Linked DNA regions of Homo sapiens: region 2 is linked to region 1. Evidence: fine-mapped expression QTL. Tissue or cell type: adrenal gland. Region 1 holds a variant in brackets; the other region holds the start of a gene. All regions are shown on one strand. Distances are between the middles of the regions. Region 1 has its middle 53 kb from the start of NTAQ1. Region 2 holds the start of ATAD2 (ATPase family AAA domain containing 2).

Evidence for each region. PIP is the estimated chance that this variant, and not a neighbour inherited with it, causes the effect. A credible set is the group of variants that fine-mapping cannot tell apart.
Region 2: it holds the start of ATAD2, and the variant in region 1 is the best candidate, but not a certain one, in a credible set for the expression of ATAD2 in adrenal gland (GTEx, PIP 0.53).

What each region holds. Positions count from the first base shown.
Region 1 is chr8:123,461,536-123,477,172 of GRCh38, reverse strand. It overlaps a transcript of NTAQ1 not described here. Among named protein-coding and RNA genes, the nearest start is that of NTAQ1, 53 kb to the right of the region's middle. The variant AAAAAAGG/G (reference allele first, on the strand shown) is at 6,256.
Region 2 is chr8:123,384,287-123,399,923 of GRCh38, reverse strand. It overlaps ATAD2 (ATPase family AAA domain containing 2), which reads left to right and starts at 3,477. Exons shown (of 28, transcript NM_014109.4): 1 at 3,477-3,737. The coding sequence starts at 3,567. RefSeq lists enhancers at 3,041-3,335, 3,351-3,520, 3,571-3,620, 4,391-4,530, 6,405-6,905 and a silencer at 3,781-3,960.

The DNA of each region.
Region 1 (15,637 bases):
CTTTTATGGTCCAAGCATAGTAAACTCATGTTCTCATTTCCTTTTCCACCAAAACAGCTATCTCTGCTCCCTGAAGAGGCCTTGGATTATTATAGTTCCTTAAATTCCCTGAAATTCTCAGGAGAGAAGGAATATTTTTTTAAAGCAAGCACAGCTTGGAGCTAGAAAACAAAAGGTTACTAGGACAATGTAACTCATTTCCTGTTTTTCTCAACTGTCTAGACACAGATCTCATAAGCATTAGCCATGAATCCCACCATCAGGTTAAAAATAGAAGGTTTAAATATGAAATGCTGTGGTGGAGGAAAGATTATAGGTTTCTACCTTTGTCCACAAAATGACTACTTTGAAATAGGATTTTTTACCTTTTTTGTTAGTTGTGCCATAAGTTTTGTGAAGCAATATTTCAATGGCAGGAATAGAGAACACCTTTTTTCTAAAGAATATATTTGCCCCTTGTAAAGCTAATGCAATTTAGGTTTTAAAAGCCACTTGAAGACAAGCTTATGGCAGCCTATCCAAACAAAAAATCTGATCACAATTATAGTACTTGAAACTTTTCAGGTTATTGCACATACCAACATTTAACCTTAAATAAATTTGTGCAACAGAAAATGCATACAGATTTGATTTTACTTTTTCTTTTTTTCTATCTTCTGCCTCCATAAAATTATTAGACAAGTATTTTGTTTTGAACACAGAATTACTCTGTAAAAAAAAAAAAAAAAAAAAAAATTTTTTGAGACAGGGTCTCACTCTGTTGCCCAGGCTGGAATGCAGTGCTGTGATCTCAGCTTGCTACAACCCCTCCCTCCAAGACTCAAGCAATCCTCCCACCTCAGCCTCCTGAGTAGCTGAGACTACAGGAGTGGACACAGCTAACTTCTTTTGTATTTTTTTAGAGACAGGTTTTTGCCATGTTGCCCAGGCTGGTCTCAAACTCCTGGACTGAAACGATCCACCTGCCTCAGCCTCCCAAAGTGCTGGGATTACCACTGTGAGCCACTGCACCCAGCCTGGAAAACAAATTTTTAAAAACTCCTTTAATAATCCATAGGCATGCTGGGCATGGTGTCTCACACCTGTAATCTCGCAACTCAGGAGACTGAAGTGGGAGGACTGCTTGGGCCCAGGAGTTTGAGGCCAGCCTGGGCAACCTGGCAAGACCCCATCCCTAAAAATAAATAAACATATAAATAAAATAATCCATTGGCAGTGTCACACAAGTGTGGAGGATCTACAATGCTGTTTCCCAAACTTATGGAACCGCAAAACCCTTTGATCAGGATAATGCTATTAACAACTCCTAAAATAGTATTCCATGGAACACCAGTTTAGGAAACATGAATTGGATAGTTCCATGATTTCTTTTTCTGGTTCCAGAATTACATAAGGCTAGGTCTCTTCTCTGACAACCTCAGCTATCTGAATTACAACATAAAACTTGAAAGTAAACAAGTACTAATGACTCTGCAATAGTGTAATGGACCTACTCTCTTTATTATTAGGAGATAAGTAGAAGTATGCCTTAGAGATATTCACACATTTACCTTTGAATGTATTCATTGTGGTCCTTAATAGTTATACAGATATATGTTGAAATAAACATAGATTTATAACATATGTATAATTTTATAATACAGAAATTTAAAATTATACAATTTTATAATTTACAAATATAAACATATGTATGTGTGTTAGCATACCTGCATATATTTCCAAACTCTGTCCACTGAGAGGACGCAGAAGCAATGAAACCCCAGTAGCAATGAGACTACTCAATGCCAAGATCTTGGTTCCTAAGTCCATTTTCCAATAAAAGGAATCAGAGTTCTTTGGAGAAAAGATCAATTCCATGGTTGGGGCAAAGAAAGTACAAGATGAGCCTAGATTAAAAAGTAAGCATCAAAAAGCAAGAAAGCACTAAAAATAATGAGGCATGTTGAAAGGATACAGGAGCCAACCTGTTTAAGCTCCTAATGCCCAGAGCTGGAACCACTGGAGCAACAAAATAAATAATGACAGTGTTCGATTATAACCCATAAAATAAAATAAATATTCATCAGCCCATATTGATATAAAAAAATAAATGAGGGAGGAGAATAACTCTCTCTTAGAGAAGAATTCCTATTAATAGAGAAGAAATGAAGGAAACAGAAAATCACTAATAGGCAAATGCCATAGTAATAATTGTGGCAGGCAAGAATCATCCATAGATGCTAAAACTAGTGGGTGAAGGTACAAGAAACAGGATATTTGCATAGTTTTGTTTTTGTTTTTGTTTTGAGACAGAGTTTTGCTCTTATCCCCCAGGCTAGAGTGCAATGGCAGGATCTCGGCTCACTGCAACCTCCTCCTCCTGGGTTCAAGCTATTCTCCTGCCTCAGCCTCCCAAGTAGCTGGGATTATAGGCGCACACCACCACTTTTTGGTAGAGACAAGGTTTCACCATGTTGGCCAGGCTGGTCTCGAACTCCTGACCTCAAGTGATCCGCCCACCTTGGCCTCCCACAGTGCTAGGATTACAGGCATACGCCACCACGCCTGGCAATATTTGCGTAGTTTTAAAGTATTTCCCCAAGATATCTGTTAGTCACTGAGGGAAAAATGGTAATTTAGTGGAGAAACCTGGAAGACACCACTTTAACCCAGAGATCAATGTTAATTTCACCAGTAATAATATATACTAGCATTGTGTACTTCTGGATATGGTGTATGAGAAAGGACACAACATTACTTCTGAGGTATTCTTGCCAAAATTGTATTATCTCAATTTAATCAGAGAAAATACAGACAAAGCCAAATTGGAGGGCATTCTACAAGGTTACTGACCAGCTTTCCTCAGAAGTGTCAAAATCATGAAAGACAAGGAAAAACTAAGTTATAAAAGACTAAGTTTGTCTCCTTCTCATAACTAAGTTCAATTGGAGATCAAGGTTTGGATCCTGGATCAGAAAAAACCGTTAATGGGAAAACCTGCAAATTCAAGTCAAATCTATAGTTTACTTAATAGTATTGTAGCAATGTTAATTTCCCAGTGTTGATCATCATACTGTGCTTATGTAAGATGTTAAACAGTAGGGGAAGCTGGGTGACGAAATATATGGGAATTGTCTGTACTATTTTTGTAACTTTTTTAAGACAAATTATTTCAATTTTTAAAATAACAAATATGTTCACAAGTCAAATATGTATAACTCAGTGTCTTGCATACCAATGATATTAATAATAACAGTAATAATAATAACAATGCAATTTAAAAAAAAAACTTTTACTTCCTGACTAACCATAATGTACCAGGAGCTTTTATATGTGCTCTTTCCTTTAACCTTCACAATTAGAGGTCATAAAGTTAAATAACATAAACAAGATGATATTTCTAGTGAGTGGCAGAGCTACAATGTCAACTTTTGTTATAACCTAGCAGAGAAGATCAAAGTAAATTACTTACCGCTTGAAAGAGACCAAATAGAAACCTAAAATTACGTGGGAATGTTGAATATATGTGCTACATGATTTCTGTTTCTTGCTCATCGTCTAAGACTTCAAGGCATGTCAACAATGTAGAAATTCAAAAATACAGGCCGGGCATGGTGGCTCATGCCTATAATCCCAGCACGTTGGGAAGCCAAGGCCAGATCAGTTGAGGTCAGGAGTTCGAGACCAGCCTAGGCAACATGGTGAAACCGTCTCTACTAAAAATACAAAAATTAGCCAGGTGTGGTGGCATGTGCCTGTAGTCCCAGTTACTTGGGAGGCTGAGGCAGGAGAATTGGTTGAGCCCAGGGCACGGAAGTTGCAGTGAGCCAAGATCGCGCCACTGCACTCCAGCCTAAGCAACAGAGCAAGACTCCATCTCAAAAAAAAAAAAAAAGAATTTCAAGAATACAAATTAATTAATACCCTAGGTGAGTAATGGATGCCTTACTTTCTAAATGATTTTCTACAAAAGTCCCTCAGGGCTGTATGCCTTGGAAGATTTTCCCAGACACTTTCTTACACATTGATTTTGTGATCGGTTGTATGTGATTTAATAATACATGCAACCACCAAATGAGACAAGTTTCATTTTCTCCATTTTTGCAAAAAAAGTAAACTAACTCTCAAGGAGATTGAGAGACCTTCCACTGAACACCTTCCCATCCCCTCACCCCAACAGTTAACAGTTAACAATGGGCATTTTTCTCCATTCAAATGAAGGTAAACTAATATCCAGGGCATCCTTGGATAAGAAAATAGGCGATGAAAGGAAAGAGGGAAGAGGGCAGAGGGGAAGAAGGAAGACACTTTGGCTAATGAGTACACATGAAAGCTCAGCTCAACCACTTAACAGTGATCTGGACAAGTTACTCTCCCTGCCTCTTTCTCTTCCACAGAAAAAGAGTTTTAGTATAGGGGGTTGAATAGCATCTCCCTCAAAATGCATGTCTATCCAGAACTTTAGAATGTGACATGTTTGGAAACAGGGTTTCTGCAAATGTAATTAACTTAAAATAAAGTCATGCTGGATTATGGTGGACCTTAAATCCAATGACTGCTGTTTTTATAAGAGAGGGCACACAGAGAAACAGAGGGAAGGCCATGTAAAATGGAGGCAGATATTGTGGGGAGCCAGCTGCAAGCCAAGGAACACCAGGATTGCCAGGAACCACCAGAAACTAGGGATAGGCAAGGAAGGATTGGACACTTCAGTCCCTGGACAACTTCAGATGGAGCATGGACCCTGTGACACCTTGATTTTAGACTTCTAACTTCCAGAACTATGAGACAATATATTACTGTTGCTTTAAGTCATCAAGTTTGTGGTAATTTGCTGACATCCCTAGAAAATAAAGTAAGCAAATGGGAAGCCATGCCTGTAAAGTGACCAGCAGAGGGCAATTAATAACCCATGAGCCATTTCACCCACTCTGCTTTAGTAAGGAGGAAGGGCAAAGGAGGTCAGGGCTAATTACACATTTCTTAGCTTTGGATATTTTTTAGCACTGTTTGGCATACTTCCTTCCTTTCTGTCCCCACTCACAACTCTCCTGAGTCACTGCCCAGCTGCCAGCAACCCTAAAATCCTGGAAAATAGCCTCTGCCAGCCTTGATGGATAGGAGTGGGGTAAGACCCCTATCAAATAACAGTACAAAGCAACAGGTACAGATTTGAATTAAACTTTCTATCTCTTCAACTAAAAAAGTTCTCTAGGCATGATTATTACTTTTATGGGTTGAATTGTGCTTCCCAAAAAGATATTTTAAAGTGTGATGGTTAATTTTACGTGTCAACTTAACTGGGTCATGGGGTGCCCAGATATTTAATCAAACATTATCCTGGGGGTTTGTGTGAGAGTGTTTTTGGATGAGAGTAACACTTATATTGGTAGACAGAGTAAACCAGATTACCCTCCCTAATGTGGGTGGCCCTCATCCAATCATTGAAGGTCTAAATAGAATAAAAAGCTCATTCTCCCTTGAGTAAGAGAGAGTTTCTCCTTGACTGCCTTTGAGCTGGGACATTAATTTTTTCCTGTCTTTGTACTTGAACTGAAACATCAGCTCTCCCTGGGTCTCAAGCCTGCTGGACTTCAGACTGAAACTATACCATTAGCTCTCCTGGATCTCAGGTCTTTGGACATAGCCTGGAACTAAACCACTGGGTCTCCAGCTTGTTGATTCACTATGCAGATCTTGGGACTTTCCAGCCTCCATAATCATGTGAGCCAACTCCTTATAATAAATTTATTTCTATCTATAGAGACGGAACCATCCTATTGGCTCTGTTTCTCTGGAGAACCCTGACTACAACAAAGTCCTAATACCCAGTACCACAGAATGTGACCTTACTTGGAAATCATGTTGTTGCAGATGTAATTAGTTTATTTGAGATGAGGTCACAGTGGAGTAGAGTGAGCCTTTAACCTGGTATGACTGATGTCCTTATAAGAGGAAGCAGAGGCAAGGCATGGTGGCTCACACCAGTAATCTCAGCACTTTGGGAGGCCAAGGCAGGAGGACTGATTGAGCCCAGCAGTTCGAGACCAGCCTGGGCAACATAACAAGACCCCGTCTCTACCAAAAAAAAAAAATCTTTTTTTAATTTGCCAGGCATGGTGGTGCATGCCTGTAGTCCCAGCTACTTGGGAGGCTGAGGCAGGAGGATCACCTGAGCCCAGGAAGTCAAGGTTGCAGTGAGCTATGATCATGCCACTGCACTCCAGCCTGAGCAACAGCGTGCTATCCTGTCTCAAAAAAAGAAAAAAAAAAAAG[AAAAAAGG/G]AAGGAGAAACACACAGGGAGAGGATGACGATATGACTTTGGAGGCAGGGATGGGAGTGAAGCATCTACAAGCCAAGAAACACCAAGGATTACCACCAAACACCAGAAGCTAAAAGAGGCAAGAAAGGATTCTCCCCTCTAGTTTTCAAATGAAGCATAGGCTTGATGACACCTTGATTTTGGACTTCCAGCCTCCAGAACTGTGGGAAAATAAACTTCTATTGTAAAAACAACTGGGTGTTTAAAAAGCACCCAGTTTATGGGACTTCATGCACAGCACTAGGACACTTATACAATTACTTTTTAAAGGTGGTGTGTCTGGCCTCCAAAAGTTGTCTTATGAAATAAGTGAATACAGTCAACACAGGTTCACTTTTAAGCACCTACCTGGTTATTCTCCACTTACACACTCCACTATTCTCACTCTTTGGGACACTGACTCCTTCAGACACCTGGTTGTAACCCTCAGCCTGTAGGGCCTCATCCCTTTTATTCTCCAGTTATAAAATGCGTCCATCTCATCAGTGATTTGCCCTTAGCAAAGATAAGTGAACACAGGGACTGCGGAGGCCACGGTAACAAGTTCACGAACCCTTGAGAGGATGAACAGCATCTCACTGTCCCTTATGCCTTGTATTAGTCTGTTTCGGCTGCCATACAAAATACCATAGACTGGGTGGTGGCTTAAACACAGGAATCCCAGCTCTGAAGCCTGGAAATTTCAAAATCAAGGTCCAGCAGGCTTCAGTTCCTAGTGAGGACCCTCTTCTTGGCTTGTAGATAGCTGCCTTCTTACTGTGTCCTCATGTGGCAGAAAAAGAGAAGAACCTCTCTTGTCTCTTTTCTTATAAGGCCACTAATCCCATCATGGGGACCACACCTTCATGACCTCATTTATATCTAATTACCTCCCAAAAGCCTCACTTCCAAATACCATCACATTGGGCGTTAAGGCTTCAACATGTACATTTTGGGGGACACAAACATTTAGTCCATAACATGTCTCCCCAAACTTCTAGCAGAGGGAGGGCAGGCAATACATGTTTGTTGATGCTTCTAACGGAAGACGAGATTCTGCATAGACTCACAGACAGCAGAGACTTGCCTCTTATACACACCTATATTGCCTTGGCTAGTTAGTGCCCAGAACATAGTAGACGTTTGATAATCACTTTTGGTGAATGAATTAGTAAAACAACTGCTGCTCTTTGGCATTGATGGCATTTGAAGAAAAGGTTTAACTAGGTCTCCATCTAAGTCTCAAAGTTTTATTCACATTTTAGTATTTTTATTTTGACCTCTCCACCTCACTCAAAAGATCAGTACATGCTCCCAAATCTATCTTATAAAAGAAGAATTCTGTTATTTTGTTATTTTTCCTGCAGTTAAAAAAATTAACATTAGAAGGGAGAAGACAAACAAAAAGGAGTAAGTTCACATTATCAGTGGGATCTTGGATTCCATGGTGTAGGTAAATTTGTAGGGCTGTTTCACAGGATGAATAACCAGCCTAGTCTCTTGTCTGTAAGCTTGACCAAGGCTTACTTTTCCAAGATGTTAAAGTTCACTCAAACCGTATTTCCTCCTACAGGCTTAAACAAATGAAAAAACATATTTCCAATGATTTCTTGGTATGACACTAAATGCATAGGCAACAAAAAGCAAAAGTAGACAAATGGAATTATATCAAACTTAAAAACTTTTGTGCACCAAAAGATACAATCAATATAGTGAAAAGGCAACTTATGGAATTGAAGAAAATATGCTCATATAATACATCTGAGAAGGGACTAATATCTAGAATATATAAAGAATTCCCTCAACTCAACAACAAAAATCAAATAACCCAATTAAAAAACGGGCAAAGTACTTGAACAGACATGTCTCCAAAAGTGATATACAAATGGCCAACAAGCACATGAAAAGATGTTCGCATTACTAATCATCAGAAAAATGCAACTGAAAACCACAAGGAGATATCACCTCACTCCCATTAGGATGCCCACTATGAAAAGAAAGAAGGGAGACTGTATAACAAGTGCTTGCTGGTAAAGACATAAAGAAATTAAAACACTTGTGCACTGTTTGTGGAATGTAAAATGGTAGAGCCCATGGAAAACAGAATGGAGGTTCCTCAAAAAATTAAAAATAGAATTACCAGCAACTATATGACCAGCAATCCCATTCCTTGATATATATCCAAAAGAACTGAAAACAAGATCTCACAGAGATATTTGCACATCTATGTCGCTTGCAGTATTATTCACAATAGCCAAGAGGTGGATGGAACCTAAATGTTCAGTGATGGAAAAAATGATAAAGCAAATGTGATATATACATACAATGGAATATTATTCAGTCCTTCAAAATAAGAAAATCCTATCATACACTATAACATGAATGAAACTGGAGGACATTAAGCTAAGTAAAATAATGCAGATAAATGCTTTATGATTCCACGTATACGAGGTATCTAAAGTAGTTAAACTGATAGAAACAGAAAGTAGAATGGCAGTTAGTGGGGGGATATGGAGAGAGGAAAATGGGGAGTTGTTTGATGAGTACAGAGTTTCCATTTGCAAGATGAAAACTTCTGGAGATCTGTGGCATGATGATGCAAATATACTTAACACTACTGTACACTTTAAGATAGTGAGTTTTATGTTATATTTTTACCATAAATAGATAAATACATAAATAAAGTTTTGAATTTATTGGTGCTTAGGGTAGGAGGAAGCTTATTCCCTACCCCACTACCCCCTTTGGGGGCCACGCAAGAATCCCTATCTCCTGAGGCCCTTTCCCAACTCACCTCCTGACATCATGGTGGGCATCTCCTTGATCTGGCCTCCTGCTTCAGTTTGTTTACCTCTCATTTAGAGATCCTGAACCTCCAGCACTTTGGGAGGTGAAGGCGGGTGGATCACTTGAGGTCAGGAGTTCGAGACCAGCCTGACCAACATGGCAAACCCTGTCTCTACTAAAAATACAAAATTAGCGGGGAGTGGTGGCTGGCGCCTGTGACCCTAGCTACTTGGGAGGCTGAGGCAGGAGAATCGCTTGAACCCGGGAGGCAGAGGTTGCAGTGAGCCGAGACCGTGCCATTGCACTTCAGCCTGGGCAACAAGAGCAAAACTCCATCTCTAAATAAACAAATAAAATAAAAATAGATACCTTGAACCTGTCTCTCATATTCACTGCTCCTCTGGCCCTTGCCTCTCCCTTTCTTCCTTGCTCACAATTCTACAGGATTTGGTCTGGTTCTAACTGCTCCAAGGAACCCTCTGGAACCTGGATATGAATGGCCAGTAATTAATTTATGAAATCAGACCCTCAGCTACATTCTATACTCAAGATACTAAAGCCAAGCTTAAAGACATTGATAAAACACTTAATGCAAGAATTATTTTATGAAAACACTTTAAAAATTATTTCAAACATCAAAATGGTACTTAAATCCCATTACATTAACAATCTCATAACACTATCTCATGCCATTGAATATGTGATAAAACCTTCATACAATATCTGGTGGGAATGTAAGTTGGCACAAACATTTAGAAAAGCAATTTGGCGGCCGGGCGCAGTGGCTCATTCCTGTAATCCCAGCAGTTTAGGAGGCCAAGGCAGGTCGATCACTTGAGGCCAGGAGTTCAACACTAGCTTCACCAACATGGCGGAACCCCATCTCACTAAAAATACAAAAATTAGCCGGGCATGGTGGTGCATGCCTGTAGTTCCAGCTGAGGGAGGCTGAGGATCACTTGAACCCAGGAGGCGGAGCTTGCAGTGAGCCGGGATCACGCAACTGCACTCCAGCCTGGACAACAGACTGAGAAAAAAAAAAAAGGAAAAAGAAAGAAAGAAAAGCAATTTGGAATATGTTTCAAGAACCACAAACATTTCCTGGTCCTTTGACCTATTAATACCATGCTCAGGAATTTGCTCTAAGGAAAATTATACTATTAAAAAAAGAACTTATATATAGAAGATGTTTATTTCCAAGTTATTTATGTAACTGATAGGGTAACATAATCAAAATGCCACTTTATTGTTTTTCTTCCATCATCCCTTTACTGTAAAATGGTATCGCCCATGGAAAACAGAATGGAGGTTCCTCAAAAAATTAAAACTAGAATTACCAGCAATTATATGACCAGCAATCCCATTCCTTGGTATATATCCAAAAGAACTGAAAACAAGATCTCAAAGAGATATTTGCACATCCATGTATACAGTTTGCCAGGGGGGAAAAGGGAGGAGGGGCAGCAGGAGAAAAGAATCTTGTCCTCACTCCAGATGAAAACAATTGCAGGCTCCTGCCTGCTGTGTCACTTTCAAGTAATGACAGTCTGATGGTCACATCAAGTCACAAACATGGTCTTACTAGAGTAATTCAGTGAGTCAGTTCATTCTATTCATCAACAATTCCATTTTCACTCAAAAGATTTCTTCCCCTTCTTTGCGAGAGCTGGCAGTTCCCAGGGAGGTGAGGGGAAAGTAGTCATTTTCTTCTGTCTTGCACCATGCGCCATAATCCTCCTCCACTCACTAGCTACTGGCTTGGATCCCATGCCCAAATGGACAGACGGCAAAGAGGTAAGTGGTTATGTCTGGAGCTACTTTAATTGGCTTCTGAGTGGCACAGTTGTAAGCTGACTTCCTGCTCACTGGGCTTTGCAGCTATATAAAGCTGCCTCTCACTTGGGGCACTTTTCTTGGGATCTTTGGTGATTCCCATCTCTGGGAACCTCTCCAGTTGTAATTCTCAGAACAAGGGAGAAGCATTCCATTCCAGCTGCTATTGCCCTCAGCCCCTGGTTCTCTGGCAATCCCGTCCACTCAGACTTCACTCTTTGGCTTCCTCTCACCCTCCCAGAGGGTCCTCTTGGACAGGATTTAAAATGACTTTCATGCAGAATGACAAACTGTGAATGGGTATACAACAGAATACAACTCTAAGTTATAGAGAAAGAATGAACTACTGACACAGGCAACAATATGGATGGAACTCAAAGATGTCATGCTGGCTGGGTGCAGTGGCTCACACCTGTAATCCCAACACTTTGGGAGGCCGAGGTGGGTGGATCGCTTGAGCCCTGGAGTTCCGAGACCAGCCTGGGCAACATGGTGAAACCCCATCTCTACTGAAAACACAAAAATTAGCCTGGCATGGTGGCGGGCGCCTGTAATCCCAGCTACTCAGGAAGCTGAGGCACAAGAATTGCTTGAACCCAGGAGGCAAAGTTTGCAGTGAGCCAAGATCGTGCCACTGCACTCCAGCCTGAGTGACAGAGCAAGACTCTGTCTCAAAAAAAAAAAAAAAAAAAAAAAAAGATGTTATGCTGAGTGAAAAAAGCAATCTCAAAAGGGTACGTACTATACAATTCCATTTACAGAACACTCTTAAAATGACAAAATTCTGGTGATAGAGAACAGATGAGTGGTCGCCAGGGGTTAGGGTTGGCAGGAGGGCCTGACTACAAAGCTTTAGTATGAGGGAGTTTCTCTGCAGTGACGGAAGCTGGTGACGGTGTCCTTGTTTTGGTAGTGATTACACATATCTATATGTGTGACAAGATTTCACAGTACTGTTTATACACATGCACACACAAGAGCATGTCAAAATTCATGAAAATCAAGGTCTATAGTTTAGTTCACAGTATTGTGTCAATGTCAATGTCAATTTCCTAGTTTTGAAAATGTACGGTGGTTCTACATTATCAATGGGGAAAGCCAGATGAAGGGTACATGGAACTCCCTTTTATTTTTGCAATTTCTTCTGAGTCTTAAATTCGTTCAAAATAAAAGGGTTTTAAAAATGGCTCTGGCTCAGTATCGTCTCTCCCCTGGGGCCCACACTTTTTTTTCCTGAGACAGAATCTGTCTCTGTTGCCCAGGCAGGAGTGCAGTGGTGTGATCTGGGCTCACTGCAACCTCCATCTCCCAGGTTCAAGTGATTCTCGTGCCTCAGCCTTCCAAGTAGCTAGGATTACAGGCGCATGATACCACACCCAGCTAATTTTTATATTTTTAGTAGAGACAGGGTTTCACTATGTTGGCCAGGCTGGTCTCGAACTCCTGACCTCAAGTGATCCGCCTCCCAAAGTGCTGAGATTACAGGCGTGAGCCACAGTGCCCAGCCAAGGGCCCACATTTAAGTCCCAGGAAACACTCTCTCATCTCTTGCCCCAACAAACCCTGGGAACACAGGACCAAACCCAGCCCTCTGTGTCCTGCTGCCACAGGCCACTCTAGCCAGTTACATATTTCTCAACCATAGGAAATATGTAAGTTAAATATGTGGTCCTATCAGAGCCCCCATCGTACCCTTGAGGTGAAGGTGGTAGCACTCCTGGCCCTTACCCCTGGGGAGGGAGAGTGGAGGCACAGCCTGGCAATGCTCTCTCCAGTGGCGTCTCTCTACCCTTCCTCCTCCTCATGCCGCTGCCACTCTGACCTCTCGTGTATTCAGTCTGAGGGCATCCAGGGTTAGGCAACATGTTCACGAGCATTTCCCTGCTGTTATGGATGCTGTGGTCCCTGCCCAAATATCCCCTTCAGGCCCTCATTTCTATTCCAAGTCTCTCTGAAAATTGCTCTAAGCTGAAGGGAGTTACCGTGATCACATCTCTGTCCCAGGGGCAACCTGCATCCATTGACTGGTCCCTTTAGGGGTATAAAGACCCAGCCTCCTTGCTCCAGAAGGGAACAACTCTGCAAGACCATCTCTATTAGTCTGTTCTCACACTGCTAATAAACACATACCTGAGACAGGATAATTTATAAAGGAAAGAGGTTTAATGGATTCACAGTTCCACATGGCTAGGGAGGCCTCACAATCATGGTGGAAGGTGAAGGAAAAGCAAAGTCACGTCTTAACATGGCGGCAGGCAAGACAGCATGTGCGGGGGAGTCCCCTTTATAAAACCATCAGATCTCGTGAGATGTATTCACTATCATGAGAACAGCACAGGAAAGACATGCCCCCATGATTCAATTACCTCCCACCAGGTCCCTCCCACGACAAGTAGGAATTATGGCAGCTACAATTCAAGATGAGATTTGGGTGGGGACACAACCAAATATCACCATCCCAGCTCTAGAGGTCTCTGGGGATTGGCTGAGTAGGGATTGCATCACAGTTCAACACCTCCCTGTGTCTCATCCTGCTTCCTTTCTTCCCCCTTAGCTGCTGAGCCCCAAACACTCCCCCAATAAACTGCCTCCATACAAATGTCCATCAAGAGCCTTTTACGAGGAACCTAACCTGTGACACTTGATGAATTCTGTATACCACGTCAATCTCACACTCACTTTGGATTCTGATATCTATTTAATTGGTGCCTGAGTCAAAACTGAGAAATGGGAAGTCCCACTTAACATCATGGTATACTTATAATAGGAATAAACAATATCAATCAAAGAGAAACTTAATAAAGCATGGCAAATCAACTTTATGAGTTATTCAATAGACGGTAAAAAGTATAAGCATTTCACAGCAAAATATTCCAGAAGAATAACTGTGATCTAATATTAAGAGAACACAAAATTTATTTTGGATTGAAACCAAAAAAAGCAATAAAGAACATCTTGGGGATATCTGGAGAAGTTTGAATACAGACCACATATTAGACATCATTGTTGCATCAATGTTAAGTTTCTTAGACGTGATAATAATATCATCATAAAGCAGAAGAATATCTTTCTTAGGAAATCCTTCTGAAGTATTTATAGGTGAAGTCTCATGATATCTGCAACTTGCTTTCAAACTGTTCAAACAGAAAAATGTGTTTTTCAGTGAGAAAGAGAGAAAGAAAAAGTGTTCTTCCCTACAAAGAGCAGGAATAGTCACTTCCTGGAGCCACCGTATTCCCATTCCTGTACTAAATGCTCCCCCTGGTGTACCAAGAGAGCAGAATGCATTCATTAAGATGTATTTCAAAATGCCCTTCACAGTGGGAAAGCAAAGCCCCAAGACTTTTACAGAACGTGATCAAAGTGTCAGACTTTTTAATTTATCTTCTCCCAAGTCCTAACCAACAGTGTAGTTCCTGTTCCCCAGTTTGCTCTCTATGGTGTCAAAATCTTGAGTTTCAATTCTGGTGAATTGGGGGCATGCTTGGGGAAGGAGTGAAGAGAAGGGTACCTGTAGCCATGCCCATGAATGCATGAGCTCTGGAGTCAAACAGTCAAATGAATCCCACTTTGGCCACTTACTAGCTGGGGGACCTCTTTGAGTGTCCGCTTCGTAATCTGTGAAGTGGGAATGATAACAGGACTCATATCAAAGAGGATTAAATGAGATAACACAGACCAAGACTTAGCATGGGGCTTGGCACATGGTCTAATTAGAATTCAATAAGTAGTAATCAATTATTATCATCTCCTTCTTTTTGAGGAGGCTTCTAAGAGAGTGCCTTAGAAGTCCTAGTGCCTTGTGTACTTCAAAAACTACTGCCCTAGAGTATCTGAGTTGTAGACTTAACTCTGCTGAGAAAATCCACCCAATGTTCTTTCTACAAAGTTATAATAACTAATCTCATATTAAAAACAAAACACAGGCCCAGCACGGTGGCTCATGCCTGTAATCCCAACACTTTGGGAAGCTGAGGCAGGCAGATCACAAGAGGTCAGGAGTTCAAGACCAACCTGGAGAGCATGATGAAACCCTTTCTATACTAAAAATACAAAAAAATTAGCCAGGCGTGGTGGCATGCACCTGTAGTCCCAGCTACTCGGGAGGCTAAGGCATGAGAATCGCTTGAACCTGGGAGGAGGAGGTTGTAGTGAGCTGAGATCACGCCACTGCACTCCAGCCTGGGTGACACAGCGAGACTGTCTTAAAAAAAATTTTTAAAAAGAAAACCTCCCTTTTAGGGATACATGCACTGAAAAATATTTTTTCACTAGATTTCCCTGTCTCACACATTATTTCCAAGAAAAATGATTTTTTAAGTTCTGTAATTTTCTGCTCACCCGTGGGCCTCCTGGGCTTTTGCCTGTGACACTCTAGCCATAGCCTCCTCCAAAGCAAGTCACTCTTGTGCCCCATGTCAAGAAGGAGCACAAGAGTCTCTCTCCTCTGCCCCAATTTCATGCTCCCATCTCCTCTTCCCCTCACATACTTCCTCTTGCTCTATCTCCTTTCCTTTCAATAAATCCTTATTAAGCATCTACTCGCTGAAAGACACAGTTCCTGCTGTTCTTGAATATACAAAGTTATCAAGGTCATAGTTCTGCTTTTTATGAGTTTATGGTCTAATAGGCCAGACTCCTGCAGGAAAGCCCAACATGTGAAAGGACCTAGGGTGTCATTATAGCAGATACTAAGCATGGTAGAGCAGAAGACAACACCAGGCTGGGGCTAAGGAA
Region 2 (15,637 bases), 77 kb after region 1:
CCAAAGTGCTGGGATTACAGGTGTGACACATGCCTGGCCTCAGACCTTTCTTTCTTTCCTTCTTTTTTTGAGATGGAGTTTCGCTCTTGTTGCCCAAGCTGGAGTGCAATGGCGTAATCTCGGCTCACCGCAACCTCTGCCTCCCAGGTTCAAGAAATTCTTCTGCCTCAGCCTCCTGAGTAGCTGGGATTACAGGTGCCCGCCACCATGCCCAGCTAATTTTGTATTTTTGGTAGAGATGGGGTTTCTCCATGTTGGTCAGGCTGCTCTAGAACTCCCGACCTCAGGTGATACCCACCTCGGCCTCCCAAAGTGCTGGGATTACAGGTGTGAGCCGCCCCGCCTGGCCTCAGATTGACCTTTCAAGTCCACTGTATGTTTCTCTCCTCTTCCTTCAACCACTCTGTATCACATGACCCTGTTTCATTTTCTTTATACCACTTGCTATAATGAAGTTACCTTGTTTATTTACTTCCTTGTTTATCCACTGAGTACCTCTTAGAATGTAAGCTCCATGAACCTAGGGTTCCTGGTTCACTGCTTTACTCCCTGCACCTCTAACTATGCTTAGAATAAGATGGGGGCTCAATTAAAATTTCCTGAATAAACAAATCAAATGAGATGGTATATACAGTATATAGTCGTGTGGTTTTTTTTTTTTTTGAGACGGAGTCTTGCTGTGTCGCCAGGTTGGAGTGCAGTGGTGCCATCTCGGCTCACTGCAACCTCTGCCTCCCAGGTTCAAGCAATCCCCCTGCCTCAGCCTCCTGAGTAGCTGGGGCTACAGGCGTGCACCACCACGCCCAGCTAATTTTTTGTATTTTCAGTAGAGACGGGGTTTCACCATGTTGACCAAGATGGTCTCAATCTCTTGACCTCGTGATCTGCCCACCTCGGCCTCCCAAAGTGGGGGGATTACAGGCGTGAGCCACCGTGCCCAGCCATAAATAGTATTTTAAAACCAAGTAATAGTAAACTCTGCTACTTTTTAAATTTTTTAAACTGTACTACTTTAAATATTGTTCCTTTCTTTTTCACCTATGTTGGTTAAACAATTATTTTAAAGTTTTTTTCTATTGTAAAAGTGAAGCATATTCATGCAAGAAAAATCAGAAAAATTGTTTGGGCATGGTGGCTCACACCTGTAATCCCAGGCTTTGGGAGGCTGTGGTGGGAGGATTGCTTGAGGCCAGGAGTTTGAGACCAGCCTGGGCAACAGAGTGAGACCCCGTCTCTAAAAACAAATTAGCCAGGTGTGATGGCACACACCTGTGGTCCCAGCTACTAGGGAGGCTGAGGTGGAAGGATTGCTTGAGCCCTGGAGGTCAAAGCTGCAGTGAACCGTGGCTGCGCCACTGCACTCCAGCCTGGGTGACAGAACAATAATCTGTCTTCCTGGGGACGGTAGCTCACGCCTGTAATCCTAGAACTTTGGGAGGCCAAGGCAGGTGGATCACCTGAGGTCAGTAGTTCGAGACCAGCCTGGCCAGCATGGTAAGACCCCATCTCTACTAAAAATACAAAAATTAGCTGGGCATGGTGGTGCACGCCTGTAATACCAGCTACTCTGGAGGCTTAGGCAGGACAATCGCTTGAACCCGGGAGGCAGAGGTTGCAGTTAGCTGAGATCATGCCACTGCACTCCAGCCTGGGCAACAGAGCAAGATTCTGTCTCAAAAAAAAAAAAAAAAAAAAAAGAACAAGAACCTCTCTCAAAAAAAAAGCAGGACTCCCAGTTAAATGCGAAGTTCAGATAAACAACAAATACTTTTTATATGTCCCCAGACATTGCATTCTTCATTCAGCAGCCACGCAGATTATTTTTAAAGTCGGAATAAGTCAAACCTCTGTTCAAAACCCTGAGATGTCTTTTCATCTCAGGGTTTGGATGGGAATTTGGGGGCTATAATAAAAGCCCTCAAAAGTTTCAAACTAAGACCCAGAGTCCCGTAGGACCTGCTCCCAGTGGCTCTGTTCTCATTGGCCTCGCCACTCTCCCCTTCCTGCTTCCCGCCTCTCTCTTCTTCCAGAACCATCTAACCTTTAGGCCTTTGTCAGACTTCTCAGCCAGACCTTCCCTAATCACCCTATTTTAAATTGCACTCTTCCCTCCCCCTTCCCTACTTTATATTTCTCTGTAATGCTTGCCACTTTAAAACTTTTACATTTAGTTTATTGTCTTTCACCTTCCACTAGAGTTTAAGTTCCATTAGGGCATTTTTGTTCTTTTTATTCACTGCTGCATCCCCAGTGCTTAGAATAATGCCTGGTACATAATAGAGGCTCAATATGTATTTAACAAATATTAAATTAATGAACTGTAGTTATCCAAATCAATAAATAGCTTTCGTTTATTTCGCTAAGAGCCCTCGGACATTCTGATCATTCAGCGTGTTACCTATTTCAAAGTAGTCAAGTAACTGCCATCTTAGAGAAGCCATCTTCTTGTATTCTGTGATAATAGCGAACGCTTATTGAGCACTTATTATGTGCAAGCACGGCTCCAAGGTATCATAATAGTACTTTAGGGCCTTAGGTATTACAATCGGAGTTACTTTCCGATTATATGTACATTCCGAGATACGTATAAAAAGTATTTGTTCTTTATCTGAACTTCACATTTAACTGGGAGTCCTGCTCTTTTTTTTGAAACAGGTTCTTTTTTTTTTTTTTTTTTTTTTTTGAGACAGAGTCTTGCTCTGTTGCCCAGGCTGGAGTGCAGTGGCACGATCTTGGCTCACTGCAACCTGTGCCTCCCGGCTTCAAGCGATTCTCCTGCCTCAGCGTGTGAGGAAATTAGAATGCAGGGAGGTGAATAATTTGTTCGAGATCTTCTATGTGGGATGATCAATGGCAAAGATGGGTACAGAACCCGCGTCCTTAACTAAACGATGGCACTCTGCTGGCTCGCTTTTAGCTCCTTGTGTTTTCTTTCTTTTTGGTGGTTAACTTGTTTTCGTCAAGCCCTCAATTATTTAAAAAAAAAAAAAGTTCTTAAGGCTCAAAGTCAAAACCTGTCAAAGGCCAAGTGCTTTATTTCCCTCCAGTCAAGGACTGGGCATTTTGCATTTGAATCCTGGATGGCGGGAAGCAGCAAGCAGGTGTCAACAGGGGTGGGGAGGAGACGCCGGACCCCACCAGCCAATCAGAGCGCGCAGAGGCCTCCCTTCCCCCGCCGCCGTCCCGCGCCAAAATTCCAAACGGGCTACGCACCGCTCCCACCGTCTCCTTCCGCCGAGCTCAGCGAGCCGGAACTATGTGAAGAAAAAGAAGTCAGCGTTTTCCCCAGGACTCTCCGCTCAGGTCCTCTATACTGTCGGCCTGTGTTCCTCTCCACGTTGGCCCGGCCTCCTTCGCTCTACAAATGGGAGGAGAGTTTCGAGCCTGCTGTTCTACGGTGGTGGCGTGGGCGGGACAGACGGCGGAGGGATTCTGGGCGCGCGCGCTGCGGCCGCTGGCGCGGAGCTTGTGGCGCCAGAATTCGGAGCGCGGAAGAGCCAGAGCTGCGAGCGCCTGGAGCTGGATCTCTCTCCGGTCGCGCACGCCGAGGCCAGTAGGGAGAGAAGATGGTGGTTCTCCGCAGCAGCTTGGAGCTGCACAACCACTCCGCGGCCTCGGCCACGGGCTCCTTGGACCTGTCCAGTGACTTCCTCAGTCTGGAGCACATCGGCCGGAGGCGGCTCCGCTCGGCCGGCGCGGCGCAGAAGAAACCCGCGGCGACCACAGCCAAAGCGGGCGTGAGTACGGGCCTGAGGCGGGCTCCCAGGGCGGTTCCCGGGGGGACTGCCGGCAGCCCGGCGCTCGGAGGGGCCTGGGGGTGGGCGGCGCCGGTCAGGGTGACAGTTGTCGGGGGAGAAGTGTGGTCGAGGACGAGTAAAATGGAAGCTCTCGGGATCGGAGGTGCGGGTCGGATCGCTGAGCTGAGGCTGGCCGGGAGAGGACTAAGCATTTGGTCACCACCTACTTTTACGCAAGAGGAAATCGAAGCCCGCCACAGCGGAGTGCGGTCTGGGGCCAAGCCGCGGCTGTTCGGCCGCCCGCACGACCCCCCACTCCCTGGCCGATCGATCGCCCAGGCTCCTGCCCTAGGTTCGCATCAACCTGGAGGCAACACGCATCCCCTGACTGCTTTCTGTCTGCGCCATAAACGTTGGGGGGGAGGGGGCACAGGGACAGACAGGTTGTAATTCAGGTTCTCTGACCTCCATTAACGATCCAGAGGAGTTCCGTAATAACAGCGCAGTGAATAATACCAGGTTGCATAATGTGGAGGGATGAAGACCAACATTTCATGTACGCCCCCCGCTTCCAAGCCTCGTCATAACCCTTTGAGAATGCGTAGTTGTGCTATCTCTTTGACAGATGAAGAAACGGATTCAAAAAGGTAAACAGTAAGGGGTAGATCTAAAATTGGAACTCAGATTGCCTGCCTCCTAAATCGTTCCCTTTCTATGCCGTCATGCTGCAGTTACAAGCAGTGTCTATAGGGGAAGTTTGGAAGGAAGGAGGGTCCTCTTGAAAGAAGTGCTGCTTCTAGGTCTGAAGTGCAGTGACGGTTTTTGCAGGGCAGAGTTAAAGCTGAGCAGTTACTCCCCTCCCATCCACCTCCCCACCCCAGCTGCTGAAAGAGGCCTAGGTGGAGGGGTTTCAGCATTCACAGAAGGTTGAAGAAGTCGGGGAAGCTCGCTAGTAAATTTAGTTAAGGCAGCAAGTAATATATAGCTGGACTGAAGGTGTTGGAGTGAGTGAGGGTAGGCATGGAGTAGGAAAAATAGGACCTGAGAGAAGGTTGGGAACTTGGGAATGAGAATGAGAGGCTCAGGGGAAATGTGTGGTGGAAGTGACAATGTAATCCTCTTCAGTTCAGCAGACGATTTCAGGGTCTTGTATTAAGTCTTCTATTAAGATCTTGTATTTAGATAACTATATAAAATTAGTTGCCAGTATCTTTTGTGGGCATCCCATTCTGGTTGCTACTCTACTGAGGGGAATGGGTTAAAAACTACACTCCCTTCAGTCTCTGAAATTGTGATTCTGAATTGAAAAGACAAGTAATTTCCTGACTTTAAAGATTTGTTTCTCAGTCATCTGCCAGGAATTGGCAGAGACCTGGAGAGGCCAAACACTTCTGCACTGGAATTGGTTACTTGACTTAACCTGTGTTCAGAAAATGTGTTTCAATACTGATTGATTATTTATGTCCAGGGTAACACTAGATCCTGTGAACATAATGATACGTACTGATATATTGAATACTGGTTAAATACATAGGCTCTTTTTTTTTTCTTCGAGACAGAGTCTCACTCTCTCATCCAGGCTGGAGTGCACTGGTGTGATCTCGGCTCACCGCAACCTCAACCTCCACCTCCCGGGTTCAAGCAGTTCTCCTGCCTCAGCCTCCCAAGTAGCTGGGATTACAGACATACACCACCACGCTGGGCTAATTTTTGTATTTTTAGTAGAGACAGGGTTTCTGTATGTTGGCCAGGCTGGTCTCGAACTCCGACCTCAGGTGATCCACTTGCCTCAGCCTCCCAAAATGCTGGGATTACAGAATTGAGCCACCCTGCTTGGCCAAATACATAGACTCTTAAGAAAACTGTTAATTATGAATTTCAGTTTCAGCTTCTCAGGTTTACCAATAATCATCAGGTTTCTACACTTGTTAAATGGGATGATACCCACCACATTGGTAGTGAGGATTAAATGTGATCATGTATGTAAGGAGATTAATTGAACAGTTAGCATATGGTTAGGATTCAGTCATTGTCAGCTATTAAGACCATCGTCAGTTTTAGTTAATGGCCACTCCGTTTTTTTTTTTCAGTTCCTCAGGAAAAAAAACCTTAGGTTGTTGTTGACTCCTCACATCCAGTGCATTAGCAAATTCTGTTGGCTCCACTTTCAAAATATATTCCAAGTCTGACCACTTTATATGTCCTCCAGTGTTGCCATGCTGGTTCAAGCCATAATCTCTTTCCTGGATTATTTATTTATTTATTATTTTGAGACAGAATCTTGCTCTGTCACCCAGGCTGGAGTGCAGTGACGTGATCTCGGCTTGCTGCAGTTTCCGCCTCCCGGGTTCAAGTGACTCTCCTGCCTCAGCCTTCCAAGTAGCTGGGATTACAGGCATGCGCCACCACGCCTACCTAATTTTTGTGTTTTTGGTGGAGACGGTGTTTCACTGTTTTGGCCAGTCTGATCTCAAACTCCCGGTCTCAGGTGATCGGCCCACCTCAGCCTCCCGAAGTGCTGGGATTACAGGCATGAACCACCGCGCCTGACCATCTTTCCTGGATTATAATAGATTCTTGATTGGCCTCCTTCCCGTTTTCCACTGTTTGATATATATATTATGCCCCACCTTCCCTCAACAGTCAGTTCTCTTTATTTATGCATTTATTTATTTTTGAGACAGAGTCTTGCTCTGTCACCCAGGTTAGAGTGCAGTGGCACCAACGTGGCTCACTGCAGCCTCAACCTCCCAGGATCAAGTGATTCTCCACCTCAGCCTTCTAAGTAGCTGGAACTACAGGGGCTCGCCACCACACCCAGCTCATTTTTAAGTTTTTTGTAGCAATGGAGTCTCACTATGTTGCTCAGGCTGGTCTCGAACTCCTGGACTCAAGCAATCCTTCAGTTTCAGCTTCCCAAATTGCTGGGATTAAAGGTGTGAACCACCACGCCCCACCAATAGTCAGTTCTTAATGCAGTGAATCTTTTTTTTTTTTTTTTTGAGATGGAGTTTCGCTCTGTCACCCAGGCTGGAGTGCAGTGGCCCAATCTCGGCTCACTGCAAGCTCCACCTCCCGGGTTCACGCCATTCTCCTGCTTCAGCCTCCCGGAGTAGCTGGGACTACAGGCACCCGCCAACACGCCTGGCTAATTTTTTGTATTTTCAGTAGAGACAAGGTTTCACCGTGTTGGCCAGGGTGGTCTCGATCTCCTGACTTCATGATCCGCCCTCCTCGGCCTCCCAAAGTGCTGGGATTAGAGGCGTGAGCCACCGCGCCCAGCAAATGCAGTGAATCTTTTAAAAAGTCAAAACAGTTGATCACTTAAAACCCTCTTGAGACTCCCTATCTAAGTAAAAGTCTGTAAGTTTGGAAGCAGCCCTAAGCATCCCTGCATCCTTTATAATGACATCTTTTTCTACCCCTTTACAAAACGCACTCTATTCCAGCCACACTGGCATAGCTGCTTCTTTAATACCAGGGCCTTTCCATTTGGTATACCTCTGCTGGAAATACTCTTCCCCTTGATATCTGCATGACCCATTCTTTTAACTTTTTTTTTTTTTTACATTATTTTAAACTAAAAAACAAAACCTCAGGAATTATAGTACTTTAGTGTGGTCCAGAAATTGTACAAATAAATAACTCAGTCCTTACAACCTTATGAGGTAGGTAAGATTTTTTTTTTATGAGAAAACTGATGCACAGAGACTTAAATAAATTGCCCAAATTCACCTTATAGTAAGCTGTGTGACTATGATTCAAATTTAGGAGTCTGTCTACCTCAAGTCTTTGCTAAAATTTCACCTTTGCAATGATGTTTACCATAAGCACCATATTTAAAATTACAAACCACTCTCCTGACATGCCTCTCCTAGCACTTGTCACCTTCCAACATTTTCTGTACTTTTCTATTTTTAAGTATTTTTCTCTCTTCCCCAATCAGAATGTAACTGCACGGGGACTTGGATTTTGACTTTTTTTTTGGCAATGTTATCCCAGCACTTAGAACAGAACCTAGCAGGAAGTAAGTGTATATTAAATATTTGTTGTTGATTGTTCTTACTCTAAAGAGATACAAGTCTAGCAGAGGAGACCTAACAGCAATATACAGAGACTATTTGCCATAAATCCCGTATTTGTGGTATATGGTGGTTGAGCAATTAGAATGCACTCTGCTGGATGTTGTAGGGTAGAAAGGATCCCCCTCAACCCCCACCACAGTTCCCAGCAGGCATTATACCTTTTTGAGACAAAGTTCTCCTCCCTTTTATACATCAAGGTGTCTGTGTAGACCAAATTATAATCACAGTGTTACATAATGAGCATGGGATTGGATTAAAATAAATCGGTGGTCTTTAGGGGTAATGTATTCATACTGACAAGCCCATCAGTACCAAAAATGAAACATGCCTCTGTAATTGGAATATTTTCTGATTTGGGGGCTTTACATTCAATACATTTGGTTGGATTACACCTTGCTGTTTTACATCAATCATGCATTTCAGAGACTTCACTCCCTGATCACCCTGATTATATTTGGATATTTCTTAGTTTCCTCAGCCACATATTTATTGACAGAGCATTTCTTAGGCTAGGCTGCTTTTATGGGTGGTTACATTTATTCATTTAATTCATTAACTTGAATTTTTCCTAGTCTAATCTCAGGCTGACCTTTTTTTTTTTTTTTTTTTTTTTTTTCAAAACTTCTCATTACCTCTGATCAGGCTGATCTTATCTTCAAGTTCTGAAGTTACTTTTAGTCACCTATTTATTAACTACATTGTATTTTTATATTTTGAATATGTTCTCATTCAGCTGGGCTTATAGATTTGTGTTTTTGTTTTTTCCTGACTTGTATGGGTTCCCTGAATATTGTGGTGGTGGTGGTCTAAGTTTGTTTTTTGTTGTTTTTTTAAAACTTCTATTTTCATCCTACCAACTTTATGACTATGGATATCTTTTCTGTAGTTTCTTTTTCTTCCAGAATCAGAGTAGCCATTGTCTATTTCTGTACTTTCTTTGTTTTCTAAGGTCTGAGGTTCTTTGGTTTCTGTAAATTTAGGGTTGTTTCTCATGTTGAAGAGTCACTTAAGGATGGATAGTAGGGTGTTTTTTTTAAATTGATGATGATCGTACATTACTTTTGGGTTTTTTTTTTCTTTTGAGACTGTGTTTTGCTTTTGTCGCCCAGGCTAGAATGCAGTGGCGCAATCTCTGCTCACTGCAACCTCTGCCTCGTGGATTCAAGCAATTCTCCTGCCTCAGCCTCCGGAGTAGCTGTAAGCGCCTTCCAATTACAGGCGCCTGCCACCATGCCCAGCTAATTTTTGTATTTTTAGTAGAGACGGGGTATCAAACTCCTGACCTCAGGTGATCCACCTGCCTTGGCCTCCCAAAGTCTGGGATTACAGGCGTGAGCCACTGCGCCTGGCCTACTTTTGGGTTGTTTACCTACATTTTTACTTTTCTGTGTGTTAGGTAAAATAGAACATTCTGCAGTATGTAGAAGGTACTATTTTAAAAATTGTATGTTTATTTGAAAGTCTGGAAAGATACTCAAAACTCAACACCAATATGTGTAACATACAGGAGATTTTAAAAACTTAAAGCATAACACAGTACAGAAACATGAAAAGTATATAGCTTAATGAAGTATCACAAAGCATAGATAGGGAGCTTCTGGGTGTGGCAGTGAATGGTGTTCCCTGGAATTGGGTGACATGGCAGTTCTGTATTCAGTCATAAGCAAGAAAGGGCCCTTGATTTTAGGTTTAGAGGTTACAGCTTTATGTGGGAGACAGTGAAGAGCTAGAACAGGGATCTGATGAGACAGTGTTTCGGATGGATTATAGTTAACAAAAACCTAGAGCTAAGAAGACCAGTTAAAAGATTATAATGGTAGTCTGGGTGCAGTGGCTCATGCCTGTAATCCTAGCACTTTGTTTGGGAGGCCGAGGCAGGCATATCACCGGAGATCAGAAGTTCAAGACCAGCCTAGCCAACATGGTGAAATCCCGTCTCTACTAAAAATACAAAAATTAGCCGGATGTGGCAGTGTGCACCTGTAATCCAAGGTGCCGGGGAGGCTGAGGCAGGAGAATTGCTTGAACCCTGGAGGCAGAGGTTGCAGTGAGCCGAGATTGCGCCATTGCACTCCAGCCTGGGCAAGAGAGCAAGACTCTGTCTAAAAAAAAAAAAATATATATATATATATATATATATAAAATAATAGTAATAGCTACCACTTATATAGCAGTTGCTGTGTACCAGGCATAGTACTTGATAAGACACATATATTTCTCCTGTTTATAAACTATTATTATCCTCATTACTAGATTCTTAGTATCTAGTATCCATATACTAAGTATTCTAGATTCCTAGATCCTTAGAGTTTAAGTTAAGGTGGTATTAGTAGGAATGGAGAAAAATGTCCAATAATACAGCACAGGATCTGAGAGTTGTTTGAACACAGGGAGGGAAGACGTTGTTTCCAGCTAAAGAAGTGAGCAGTAGACCATTGGGAGTTTTGTTTTGTTTTGTTTTTGAGACGGAGCCTTGCTCTGTCGCCCAGGCTGAAGTGCAGTGGCGCGATCTGGGCTCACTGCAAGCTCCTCCTTCTGGGTTCACGCCATTCTCCTGCCTCAGCCTCCTGAGTAGCTGGGACTACAGGCGCCCGCCACCACGCCCGGCTAAGTTTTTGTATTTTTAGTAGAGACTGGGTTTTCACCGTGATAGCCAGGATGGTCTCAATCTCCCGACTTCGTGATCCGCCCGCCTTGGCCTCCCAAAGTGCTGGGATTACAGATGTGAGCCACCACGCCCGGCCGACCATTGGGAGTTTTATGCCAGAATTGCTAAGAGGTTGGGACTGCTTGTCCTTGAGGATGAATAGAAAACAGCAAAGCACAGGCCGGGCACGGTGGCTCACACCTGTAATCCCAGCACTTTGGGAGGCCAAGGCGGGCGGATCAGGAGGTCAGGAGATCGAGACCATCCTGGCTAACACGGTGAAACCACATTTCTACTAAAAATACAAAAAAAAAAAAAAAATTAGCCGGGCGTGGTAGCAGGCTCCTGTAATCCCAGCTACTTTAGAGGCCGTGGCAGGAGAATGGCGTGAACCCAGGAGGCGGAGCTTGCAGTGAGCCAAGATCGCGCCACTGCACTTCAGCGTGGGCGACAGGGCGAGACTCTGTGTCAAAAAAAAAAAAGAGAGAGAAGAAAACAGCAAAGCACAAAAAGAATTAAGGAGGTCTGAAGCAATGCCTGTATTTTAAAGGTGAGAAGTTGAATCATGGAACTAAGAGTATTAAGTAAACCAAGGGACCGAAGCATTTTAAGAAAGTACTGGCCAGGCACAGTGGCTCACACTTCTAATCCCAGCACTTTGGGAGGCCAAGGTGAGAGGATCACCTGAAACCAGAAGTTCGAGACCAGCCTGAGCAACATAGTGAGACCACCCCCCCGCCCCCACCATCTCTAAAATAAAAAATAAAAATTGGCTGGGCATGGTGGCTCACACCTGTAATCCCAGCAGTTTAGGAGGCCGAGGCAGGTGGATAACTTGAGCCGAGGAGTTCAAGACCAGCCTGGGCAATGTGGTGAAACCCTGTCTCTACAAAAACCAGCTAGGTGTGGTGGTGCCTGCCTCTAGTCCCAGCTACTCAGGAGGCTGAGAGAGAGAATCGCTTGAACCCAGGAGGCAGAGGTTGCAGTGAGCTGAGATCGTGCTGCTACACTCACTGCACCCCAGCCTGGGCGACAGAGCAAGACTCCGTCTCAAAATAATAAAATAAAATAAGATAAAATACATAATCAGTAGCCAGGCGTGGTGGCACATGCCTGTAGCCCCAGCTACTACCGGGGAGGCTGAGGCAGGAGGATCTCTTGAGCTCAGGAAGTTGAGGCTGCAGTGAGCCATGATTGTGCCACTGTACTCCAGCCTGGGTGAAGGAGCAAGATCCTATCTCTAAAAATAAATAAAGAAGGTAGTGATCAGTTCTGTAGAATTCAGTGAGGTAGAGAAAAGGCTATTGGATGTAGCTATTGGGAGACAGTTGTGAATGTACTGAAAGAGCTGTGGAGGTAGAAACTAAGTTGGAGTTTACCGAGTAGATGGTGAAGTGGTTTAAACTCATGTTTAAAGACAAAACTAAGGAAGGATATCACAACTATAGTGATATAACATGTATATCATGTATTAGAATATACTGTTGTTTAAGTTTTCAGGGAGCCCTAAATTTGTGTTGAGTACATCCTATTTCAACCTCATTTGTTGATATTTGAATTGACTCAAACAACTGACCTCCCCCCCAAACATGCTTTTTAAAAAATGAATTTAAAGCTTGAATAAGCTTGGTCTTCTGTGAAAAATAACATAGAATATTTTTATTATGCAACTGTGTATACTTTAGGAAAACTTTTTTGTTATTTTATTGCTGCTTTTTCTCTATGTTAACTTACTGATTCTGCAAGGTTGTGAGAAACTTAAAATTTAACAAAATACTAACATTTCCTCTCTTAAAACTTCACTTTTAAAGAACTATAAGTGCTCTCAATATTTAAGTAGATTTTAGCCAAAGAATAAATGAGAATATTACATCTCTAGGTTAAAATTTCAGACTAAGTTTGTTTTCTCTTTGTTTTTTAGTTTTTAGGAATTTTTTTCTGGTAATACATGTGAAAATGTGAAAAATAGAAAGTGAAAGTCCCCATCTCTGTCATCCAATGTTAATTACTGTTAACAGTGTTGAACTTACCTCTTGGGAATTAGATGACTTCGGTTTAATACCTGTGCTAGTCTTCCTTAGGAAAGAAGATATACACAAGATAATTCATCTAGAGATATTTATAACATCAGAAAAAATTGCAGGCAACCTAAATATAATACATTCAGCAATTTGTTAAATAGATTCATGTAATGGCTGAAATACTATTCATTCATTAAATTTTTAGAGTAATATTTAATGACATGAAAAAATATTGATATTACTAGAAAAAACTTATAAAACATATAGTATTATCTCAGTTTTAAAATCATGTAAATATGTTTGCATAGGAAAAAAATGGTTTTTGCACCAAGAGATTAAAAGAGGTTGTCTGTGAGTGGCTGAAATTAAGGGTGACATTTTCATTTTTCCAGTAATAATGGGCATGTATTGCCTTTATTTTTATATTGCTTTTGTTAGAACTGTTTTTGAAAGATGCATTTAAAAATTTTTTAGTGTATACTCTATATAGAGGACTCCCACATAATTTTTTTTTTTTTTTGCCCACATTGTTGAGTCTTTCTTGCTGCCTAGTACTTATTTGGAGAGAATGACAAGCCGTTCACTATGCACATCAAAGATTCTCTTATACCACTTATAAGATTGTCTTCCAAGTTTCTTAGGAAATGTTTTTTCCTAGTATTGTCCCCATCCACCCCTTTTCTTGTTTTGTAAGGAAACAAAATCTTTTTTTATCCTCAGGAATATGGTAGCATTTATTTTCTTTTTTAATGTACCAAAATATACATAACATAAAATTGACCGTTTTAACCGTTTTTAAGCTTACAGTTCATTAAGTACATTCACATTGTTCTGCAACCATCATCACCATTCATCTCCAGAACTTTTTCATCTTCCAGAATTGAAACTCTGTACCCATTAAACACTTACTCCCAGTTCCTCTCTCCTCCTAGTCCCTGGCAACCACTGTTCTACTTTCTGTCTCTGAATGTGACTGTTCTCTGAATCTCATATTCCTAGACTAATCATATTTGTCTTTTATGACTTGCTTATTTCACTTAGCATATCTTCAGAGTTCATCCATATTGTAGCATGTGTTAAAATTTCCTTTTTTAAACAAGAAGGAATAATATTCCATTGTATGTACCATGTTTTGTTTGTCCGTTCATCTGTCAGTGGACACTTGGGTTGCTTCCCCTTTTGGGAATTGAATAATGCTGCTGTGAACATGAGTACAAATATTTGTGCAAGTCCCTGCATTCGCTTCTTTGAGTGTATACCCAAAAGTGGAATTGCTGGATCATATAGAAATTTTGTGTTTAACTTTTTGAGGAATTGCCTTACTATTTTATGTTACCACCAGCAACACACAAGGATTCCAGTTTCTCTACATCCTCACCAACAATTGCTATTTTCTCCTTTTTTTTTTTTTTTGTGAGTAGCCATCCTAATGTGTGTGAAGTGTTATCTCTGTGGTTTTGATTTGCGTTTCTCTAATGACTAGTGATGTTGAGCATCTTTTCATGTGTTTATTGGCTATTTGTCTATCTTTGGAGAAATCTCTATTCACATCTTTTGCTTATTTTTTAATTGGTTTGCTTGTTTTGCAAAGGAGTTCTTTAAATATTCTGGAGATATATATATGTATGCGTGTATATATGTGTGTGTGTGTATGTATATATAAAACCTTATATACCTTATCAGTATATGATTTGCAGATTTTTTTCGTATTCTGTAGGTTGCCTTTTCACTCTGTTGATAGTGTTCTTTATGCATAAAAGGTACTCATTTTGATGAGGTCTAACTTACATATTTTTATTTTGTTGTCTGTGCTTTTGGTGTCATCCAAGAAATCATTGCCAAATCCAATGCTGTTTTCTCCTAAGAGTTCCTAAATTGTTTTTTAGTTCTTTATTCTCTCATACAGTTTTAAGTTATCATCTCAACTTCCCCCTCATTTATTTCTTTCAAAGGATGTAATTTCTGTCATCTTTTGATGTTGACATTAAAAAGAATAAAACTATTATGTCAGACTTTACCTGTATCCACTGCAGTCTAAAAACCAGTTGATATGTTTTGAAACATTTAAAAATAATAACATGAGCAAACTCTTAGCAAAGTTTACCTTGATTCTTTTTTTTCTCTCTTTTAATTTGCATTTTCAGTCCACTTAACCCACTGCATTTTATGGTGATGTGAAATTTTTTTCTATACAAGCCATTTATTTGAAATGTCTACTATATGTAAGACAGTCAGTGTTAGCATGCTCATCAATAACAGTAGAAAAATAGAACCAGTGGAAACCTGTATAGCTGTAATGGTACTCAAAAGAGAATTGTATCCTTTTAAAATGTTTTACACAGGTGAATTCAAGTTTGGAGGTACCTAAATAAAAATATTACATATTTCTTTAAAAACGTTTATATACAATTAAAATATAAACAAGTTGTACAAAGTACTGGTTATGCAGGTTGTAGACAACACTTGAATGGGACATGAAATCAGTTTAAGAAAAATGTCTGAGCCTTAGTGGGCTTCTGAGCGCCAAGAAATAAAATGTTTGTGGGTAGAGTTGTTAGAATTAATGCTCTGTCAATCAAAACAAGAACATATTATCTACTTGGATTTGAAATGATAAAACTTAGAAAGTAAGATTTTAAAAAATTGTTTCGCTAATCTTTGTATCGTTCCAATTTTGTGAGCAAGAAAAGTAAGATTTTAGGAGATCTCACATGGTTGAAGTTCCCTTACCCACCCAATTAGTTCATGTGTCTGTGGATGTATCATAGTTATTGCTAAAGACAGTGTTCTCTTGAAAATGCCTTGCATGGGCCTGGCACATGGGTGCTTATTACATACTCTTGCTTTCTTGCCTCTGGGTTGGGGAGGCACTGCACTGCAAAGGGAGCCCCTCCATTCTGAAGACATTGCTAGGGGAGAGTCTGGACTTCTACCTGTGACCAGAGTGAAGGGAAAATTCTTGCCTTGTCAGAGATGGATCAATGACCATGAAAAATCTACCCTGTGATCTTTTTCAGTCTAAGCATTAAAAGCTCCTAAAGCAAAACAAACAAACAAAAAATCAAGACTGTGTTTTTGTGTATCGGTTGCATTGTTTTTATAAATGTAAGTATTGTTCATATAAATAAGTAGACAGTAATAAAAGGA